Regions from separate parts of the Homo sapiens genome. Here region 1 is linked to region 2. The links come from fine-mapping of genetic effects on gene expression. A gene starts in region 2. The other region holds a variant in brackets. All regions are shown on one strand. Distances are from middle to middle. Region 1 overlaps MTHFD1 (methylenetetrahydrofolate dehydrogenase, cyclohydrolase and formyltetrahydrofolate synthetase 1). Region 2 holds the start of MTHFD1 (methylenetetrahydrofolate dehydrogenase, cyclohydrolase and formyltetrahydrofolate synthetase 1).

Evidence for each region. PIP is the estimated chance that this variant, and not a neighbour inherited with it, causes the effect.
Region 1: its variant is the best candidate, but not a certain one, in a credible set for the expression of MTHFD1 in lung (TOPMed, PIP 0.85).

What each region holds. Positions count from the first base shown.
Region 1 is chr14:64,424,475-64,428,863 of GRCh38, forward strand. MTHFD1 (methylenetetrahydrofolate dehydrogenase, cyclohydrolase and formyltetrahydrofolate synthetase 1) reads left to right here. Exons shown (of 28, transcript NM_005956.4): 9 at 330-457; 10 at 1,256-1,353; 11 at 1,545-1,718; 12 at 2,863-2,999. Among named protein-coding and RNA genes, the nearest start is that of MTHFD1, 38 kb to the left of the region's middle. The variant C/G (reference allele first, on the strand shown) is at 2,037.
Region 2 is chr14:64,386,719-64,391,107 of GRCh38, forward strand. MTHFD1 (methylenetetrahydrofolate dehydrogenase, cyclohydrolase and formyltetrahydrofolate synthetase 1) reads left to right here and starts at 1,635. Exons shown (of 28, transcript NM_005956.4): 1 at 1,635-1,750. The coding sequence starts at 1,710. RefSeq lists enhancers at 698-797, 818-877, 1,398-1,487.

The DNA of each region.
Region 1 (4,389 bases), 38 kb after region 2:
ATTAACATTTTAAAATGGGTGCTCATTATATACTGGGTAGTTGGTTTTAAGAATAAAAAACAGTTGGTATTTTATTTGCCACCTGAGAGACTACAAAAGGATTCTCCAGGTTCTGTAAAACCACTTATGCATCTTGTGAATTTTTGCAGGTAAAATAATTTTCTCCCTAAGAAATAGCAAACATCTGTCATTCCATAGCTTTTAAGTTAAGTAGGCACTGGAGCCTGATGGGACTAACACACCCTACAATTCTGCTGAGTTTTTGTCGTAACTGATCACCAGGACTGTGATTCTGAGACTTAGTTTTGATTTCTCCCCCACTTGACCAGATGATAAAAAACCAAATGGGAGAAAAGTTGTGGGTGATGTGGCATACGACGAGGCCAAAGAGAGGGCGAGCTTCATCACTCCTGTTCCTGGCGGCGTAGGGCCCATGACAGTTGCAATGCTCATGCAGGTAATTGTGAATAAAAGTTTCTATAAGAGTTCTGAAAAGCTGATCGAGTTTTGGCTGCTTTTCTCCCCAAGTAGAAATGTCAAAAACCTACTCAGAAGTAAAGATGTGAATTTATTGAGAAAAAGGGAAGGGAAGAATAGAGAAATAAGATCAGGCACATTAATAGAGGAAAGTAGGGATGGCATAATTCCAGTCTGTTTTGGAATATAATAACTTTGAAAGAAGAAAAGTGCGATCACACTGGCTTGGCCAGGTCTGTTTTGGTTTGCCTTCCCTTTCTTTTTTTTTTTTTTTTTTTGAGACGGAGTTTTGCTCTTGCTGCCCAGGCTGGAGTGCAATGGTGTGATCTTGGCTTACCGCAACCTCCATCTCCCTGATTCAAGTGATTCTCCTGCCTCAGCCTCCTGAGTAGCTGGGATTACAGGTGTGCACCACCACGCCCGGCGAATTTTGTATTTTTAGTAGAGACAGGTTTCTCCACGTTGGTTAGGCTGGTCTGGAACTCCCGACCTCAGGTGATCCGCCCACCTTGGCCTTCCAAAGTGCTGGGATTAGAGGTGTGAGCCACCGTGCCCGGCCTGTTTTCCCTTTCTAACATGCACCAGCTGACAGGGGCCAGGCGAGCAGCCCCAAAGCATGTTAGGTGCCTCTTGACTCTTAGCTAGGATTGAAGCATGGTAATAAGTGGGTCTGAAGCAGTTCATTTTGTGATTGAACTGGAGTGACCTGGAGCTTGAAACTGAGGTGAGGATTAAAATAACCACCTCTTCTAAGTTTCATTTATTTCATTTTGCTTAGAGCACAGTAGAGAGTGCCAAGCGTTTCCTGGAGAAATTTAAGCCAGGAAAGTGGATGATTCAGTATAACAACCTTAACCTCAAGACACCTGTTCCAAGGTAAAAATAAAGTTTTACTGATTTAAAACTTTGTGAATTGTTGGTTTTTAGTTGACAGATACTGTGGGTTCACATATGCTCCCTCTGAAGGTGCCTTCAGTGGTTGGGGTTGGGTTGGGGGCTTGTTACTACTGTGGGATTAATTAAACTCAGTGGATAAACATTAATACCTATTTTCTATGTTTCCAAAGTGACATTGATATATCACGATCTTGTAAACCGAAGCCCATTGGTAAGCTGGCTCGAGAAATTGGTCTGCTGTCTGAAGAGGTAGAATTATATGGTGAAACAAAGGCCAAAGTTCTGCTGTCAGCACTAGAACGCCTGAAGCACCGGCCTGATGGGAAATACGTGGTGGTGACTGGGTATGCTTTTTATTCATGTTGCCATCCAAATCTTAGTATCAGTCCTGATACTAAGGCGTTGCATTTGCACTTGGCACATGTATGTAGAGGTGCCTTTAATTTGATTTTAGCATTTTCACCCGTATTTGATCTCATTTGATCCTTACAGCAATCCTGAGAGGTAGGTAAGAATAGATTATAATCATAGATGAGAAAATTGGTCAAGGTTATCCATCTAGTAAGTGGAAGAGTTTGGTCTTAAAACCCGGTCTTAAGATAGAATCACCTTTTGCTGTTGTTGTTGTTGTTGTTGTTTTGAGACAGAGTCTCGCTCTGTTG[C/G]CCAGGCTGGAGTGCAGTGGCACGATCTCGGCTCACCACAACCTCTGTCTCCCAAGTTCAAGCGGTTCTCCTGCCTCAGCCTCCCGAGTAGCTGGGACTACAGGTGCAAGGCACCACACCCAGCTAATTTTTGTATTTTTAGTAGAGAGTGTGTTTCACTATGTTGGCCAGGCTGGTCTCGAACTCCTGACCTTGTGATCCACCCACCTCAGCCTCCCAAAGTGCTGGGATTACAGGCGTGAGCCACCACACCCGGCCAGAATCACCTTTTTGAACCCAAAATTCATTAATTCGATGGATTTACTAAGCATTCATTTTTATTGCTGGGCTGAGGTTATATTAAAAAGCTAGTTTTTGAGAATATAAAATGAGAAATTAAAATTATAGCCGTGTCTCTACAAGATAAAGTATATTTGCTTCTTACAGCAAGAAGAGCTAAAATACAGGAATCATTTTTTTTCTTAAAGTTTTTTGGAAATTACAACTAAGACTTTTGAAAAAGATATCTTTCAGGGCTTTTGTCTTTCTTTTTCTTTGTCTTTTCTTTCTTTTTTTTTCTTTAAGAGATGGGGGTTTGCTCTGTTGCCCAGGCTGGAGTACAGTGGTGCAGTCATAGCTTACTGTAGCCTGGAACTCCTGGGCTCAAGTGATCCTCTTGCCTCAGCCTCCTATATAGCTGGGACTACAGGCATACACTGCTATGCCTGACTTTGTCTTTCTTAATCTTTAGATTACGAGTCATTCTCTAGGATCTGCTAGGTATGACTTAGTGATTCAGATACACTTAATTCTTTAAACCTTTTTCTCTTTTGCTTTCGTCTTGAAGAATAACTCCAACACCCCTGGGAGAAGGGAAAAGCACAACTACAATCGGGCTAGTGCAAGCCCTTGGTGCCCATCTCTACCAGAATGTCTTTGCGTGTGTGCGACAGCCTTCTCAGGGCCCCACCTTTGGAATAAAAGGTACTAGTGAGACTGGACCATGGGTGGTGACAGGGGACCTGCTTCTCCTTCAGTCCTCCCAGGCCCACGCAACCTATGATACTTATGGGGTCTTCAACTCATTTCAACACCAGGAATGTCATTCTCACAAACCTCTGTAGTCATGCTTTTGATGAAGGCTGTCATTGGATCTCCCCAGCTCCTGCTGTCACTGTTGGCCACTGCACAGGGATTCTCTGGGATGGGTGATATGTAGCTGGAGGTGCTTTTATTTGACCCTCATAGTCCACTGCTACAGTAACCATAAAGGTAATCATAGCTACTGATCATCTTACAGACACTCTAGAGACAATGACAAACCCCACAGATGTTTCACCTTGTTGGGAATAAGAAAAGCCTACCTTTATTGAATATATGCTTTGTGCCAGATATTGTGCTGAGCAGTTTTTGCATATTATTCTATCATCCAGTACGAGATAGTATTGTCACCATTTTAAAATAGCAGCAACTGGGACTTCAGAGGTGGCTTGGTCAAAGGCACCTGTATTAAGTACCAGAGTGATTCTTCCATGTCTATTTCAAGCTCTAAATTACTACCATACTCGCACTTTACCTTCAGATTTTTATTGCTGCGGTACTAAGAACATGTGTTTTTTTTTTTTTTTTTTTTTTTTTGAGACAGGGTCTCACTCACTCTGTCGCCCAGGCTGGAATGCAGTGGTGTGATCTCGGCTCATTGCAACCTCTCCACCTTCTGGGTTCAAGAGACTCTCCTGCCACAGCCTCCCGAGTAGCTGGGATTACAGGCACGCATGACCATGCCTGGCTAATTTTTGTATTTTTGGTAGAGACGGGGTTTCACCATTTTGGCCAGGCTGGTCTTGAACTTCTGACCTCAAGTGATCTGCCTGTCTCAGCCTTCCAAACTGGTAGGACTATAGGCATGAGCCACCGTGCCAAGCTGCTGTCTTAATTAAAATAATGTTTATTAATTATGATAGGTTCTTAGAGTTAGCTTTCTCTGCTTGGTGAGGGTATCACATTTTGCTTGTTCTAGCAATTACTACAAATGTTGACACCGGGAACACCTTCACCCTTCCACCTTTTTTTTTTTTTTTGGAGACACAGTCTCGCTCTGTTGCCTGGGCTGGAGTACAGTGGCACGATCTTGGCTCACTGCAACCTCCGCCTCCTGGTTTCAAGCAATTCTCCTGCCTCAGCCTCCCAAGTAGCTGGGACTACAGGTGCGTGCCACCATGCCTGGCTAATTTTTGTGTTTTTAGTAGAGATGGGGTTTCACTATATTGGCCAGGCTGGTCTTGAACTCCTGACCTTGTGATCTGCCCACCTTGGCCTCCCAATGTGCTGGGATAATAGGCATGAGCCACCGTGCCCAGCCCACCCTTCCACC
Region 2 (4,389 bases):
CAAAAAAACATATATTAGAAATAATTACCAGAAATAGAAAATCACAAGAGATTATCTAATCCCGTATATGGGGCTACTATAAATAACCTCAGAATTTAGAAATAAGAAAAAAATATTAAAAGCCCCAAAATTAATAAAAAATCAGTTTTAGGCCAGGTGCGGTGGCTCACGCCTGTAATCCCAGCACTCTGGGAGGCCGAGGCGGGTGGATCACGAGGTCAGGAGTTCAAGACCAGCCTAGCCAAGATGGTGAAACCCCGTCTCTACTAAAAATACAAAAATTAGCCGGGCGTGGTGGCGGGCTAATTAGGTGGTGCCTGTAATCCCAGCTACTCGGGAGGCTGAGGCAGAGAACTGCTTGAACCCGGGAAGCGGAGGTTGCAGTGAGCCAAAATCGTGCCACTGCACTCCAGCCTGGGCGACAGAATGAGACTCCGTCTCAAACAAACAAACAAAAAAAGTTTTAGATGAGCTCTGCCAGTAGTAAACGGCTTGTAAAAGAAACCCGGTATCTGGTCAAGTCCTAAGTGACCTGAACCACGCATCTTCAGGACTCTACTGGGATGACTGTAACCTGAACGCGGTTCCTAGAGCAGAGCAAGCATATTCCTTGGACTCAGTAACACAAGGGGCCAGTCCTCTCCAGCATCCCAGCTGCCACCGCCCTGTCAGGCTCCCCAGGCAATTGTCCATCTTACTCCTTCTCCAGCGTGGACGCTTAAGGGGAGGGAGCATCCCTCCTCGAGGGTCAACTGGCATGTAGCTTACGAAGACCGCGTGAGTTCTCCAACCCCAGACTTGCTGCGGGGCGGGGACGTGGGGGTGACAAAATCCAGACTACGACCCTCCATGAGCCCTGGCAACCCCGGGGTGACCCCAACACCGATGAGGCCACGCGCGCTCCAGCTCTGACACTCCTTCCAGATCGGCGGGGCCTGAAACAGCGGGCTAAGCTTCACCTACGGCTGAGCGTCAGATTCAGCTGAGGAGATTCTAAAAGCGCTATGCTGGGCCCAGACCCAGGCCCTCCAGAGCAGAACGCGGAGGGGCCCGACCCCAGTCTGGTGGCGTAGGTGTGTGACAAAGTATGAGGGCGCGCCAAGCTCTCCAGTTCCACATCTGCTGTCGAGTCCAGCGCCTGCCACGCTCCCGTGCGGGGACCCGCCCAAAACTCCCTGGAAGCCAGGCGATTCAGACCCCGCCACCGCGTCCCCAGAGACTGGGCGGAAACCGGAGACTCGCCTCCCGAACCCGCGAAACTATCTCCCGCGAGACTGCCCCGCCCCAACCCCGCCCCGCAACTCTACTCCCTGATTGGCTGGAATTACGGCCGGATTCCGGAGTCCTTTCCAGCTCCCTCTTCGGCCGGGTTTCCCGCCGAATACAAAGGCGCACTGTGAACTGGCTCTTTCTTTCCGCCAATCATTTCCGCCAGCCATTCATCACCGATTTTCTTCATCTTCCCCTCCCTCTTCCGTCCCGCAGTCCCCGACCTGTTAGCTCTCGGTTAGTTAAGGGACTCGGGTCCTTCCGAACTGCGCATGCGCCACCGCGTCTGCAGGGGGAGAAGCGGGCAGGGGCGCAGGCGCAGTAGTGTGATCCCCTGGCCAGTCCCTAAGCACGTGGGTTGGGTTGTCCTGCTTGGCTGCGGAGGGAGTGGAACCTCGATATTGGTGGTGTCCATCGTGGGCAGCGGACTAATAAAGGCCATGGCGCCAGCAGAAATCCTGAACGGGAAGGAGATCTCCGCGTAAGCACCTGACATTGTTGTTGAGTGTGGGGCTGTGGACGAGGGCTCTGAGGGTGTGCAGGTCCCCCGGACCCATTTTTTGCGGGAGGGACACTTGTAGCGGAAGAGTTAGGCCCATAACACCTGAAGACCTGCAGCCAAAGAAAGAGAACCCGGGCACAACCTGCGTTTGCAAGTGGACTGCCTAGTGGCTGTAGCCGCTGGCTCCTGTGCTTCGGGGAAAAGTCCTGTGCCGACTATGCTCCCAAACGCGCAGCTGCTGGTGACTTTCTGCCGGGAGAGTGGGTAGTTGCGGCTTCCTGGAGCCCCCCTAGTCAGAACTCAGAAATCCAATCTACTTAATTCCCGTTAATTTGGAGGTGAGTAGATGGAGACTAGTGAGGTGACAAGGCTTGACAAGACTACAAGGCTGATAATGACAGAGGGTCCTTCCAGCTCATAGCTTTTCCCACTATACCATAGTCTTATCATACGCTAAGTGAAATCTAATACATTTTTCCTTTCTCTTCAATCTCGTGCTTCTCTCTAACAGCCATCTCTCTGCCCTGGTCCTAGAGTTACTTGAAACGTAATTTGGCTCCTGAGTCCTGAGAATATTCTGCATTCCACTTGACCTCTGCCTGTTCTACCCTTGCGGGACATCTGAATGCTTAATTAGTGGGTATCGTTGCCAGCTTTACTCCCAGGAAGTAACACTGGCTGCTTTTTGTCTGGGAGGTGACTGGTGAGGAAAAATGAGAGTAGAAGGAAGAGGGAAAAATATATTCCCTCTAGTAGATGAAGGAGGGAAAGATATATTCTGTGTGACCTTACTGAGTTTGCTCTTGGGACCTTTCACATCACCCGTTATGTAAGTAACTGTTGCCAGCCACAGCAGTTACTAAATTGTAATTGTCCTGTAACTCCTAACTTTGTAATAGGTTTTTGAGTGAATTACAAAGTCATCGGTGGTGAAAAGTCCGGGCCCAGTGGCTCATGCCTGTAATCCCAGCACTTTGGGAGGCCGAGGTGGGTGGATCACCTGAGGTCTGGAGTTCAAGACCAGCCTATCCAAAATGGTGAAACCCCATCTCTACTAAAAATACAAAAAATTAGCCGAGTGTGGTGGCAGGCATCTGTAATCCCAGCTACTTGGGAGGCTGAGGCAGGAGAATCACTTGAACCTGGGGGGCAGAGGTTGCAGTGAGCTGAGATGCGCCATTGCACTCCAGCCTGGGCAACAAGAGCGAAACTCCGTCTAAGAAAAAAAAAAAAAGAAATCACAATACTTACTGCTTAGTGCTTTTCAACATGTGGCTTGCTAAACTGTATTTCTGCTTTACTTTCTGTTTTTGTTTGCTTGTATTCAAACTTACTTCCTTTTCCAGTGGCTTTTTGTTTTAATATAAAAATCTTCCTTTTAGAAAGACTGATTGTGAAGAGATAATTTAGTGCATAATAATAGTGCAGATAATTTAGTACAATAATAATGCATCTGGGCCAGTACTGAGAATAGGTGCTCACTGAATATACTTTCGTTAATTGGAGAGCAAATTAAATATGTTTATCAACTCCATAAGGGCAAATACATGTATTGTCTTATTTTTGTCTATATCCTAAACACCTGGAAACCCTGTTTCCTGCCTTACTACTTGTGTGGTTTTAAGCAAATTAATTAACCTTTCTGTGCCAAAGTTTCCTCAAATGTTAAGTAAAAGTAATGTCTAGGTCATTGGGATGTTAGTAGAATTAAATGGGTTCCTAACAGATGATCATTTATAATTCTTCCTGGCACATAATAAGTATTCGATATATGTTGTATTAATAATCAGTAATTAGTTAATGTATATATGAATGATTCATTATCTTTTTTTTTTTTTACATGGTAGCTGCTGCCTTGAGATCTATTTTTTTTTTTGAGATGAAGTCTTGCTGTGTCCAATCTTGGCTCACTGCAACCTCTGCCTCCTGCATACAAGCAATTCTCTCATATCAGCCTCCTGAGTACCTGGGATTACAGGTGCCCGCCATCACGCCTAGCTAATTTTTTTTTTTGAGATGGAGTTTCACTCGTCGCCCAGACTGGAGTACAATGGCGTGATCTCGGCTCACTGCAACCTCTGCCTCCTGGGTTCAAGCGATTCTCCTGCCTCAGCCTCCCAAGTAGCTGGGATTACAGGCGTCCGCCACCATGTCCAGCTAGTTTGTTTGTTTGTTTGAGACAGAGTTTCACTCTTGTTGCCCAGGCTGGAGTGCAATGGCATGATCTTGGCTCACTGCAACCTCCACCTCCCAGGTTCAAGCGATTCTCCTGCCTCAGCCTCCCGAGTAGCTGAGACTACAGGTGTGTGCCACCCCGTCCGGCTAATTTTTGTATTTTTAGTAGAGACGGGCTTTCACCATGTTGGTCAGGCTGGTCTGTAACTCCTGACCCCATGTGATCCACCCACCTCGGCCTCCCAAAGTGCTGGGATTACAGGCATGAGCCACTGCACCGGTCCTAGAATTTCTTAAAAATCCAGCCCACTTCCCACATTCCATCCTGCGGATTAGGAAATCATTTGAGGCCAGAAAAGTGATGTGATTTGTCCAAGGGTGAATGGCAATGGCTCAACTAAAACTAAGGTCTTCACCCAGTATATGATGTTTTTCATTCTAAC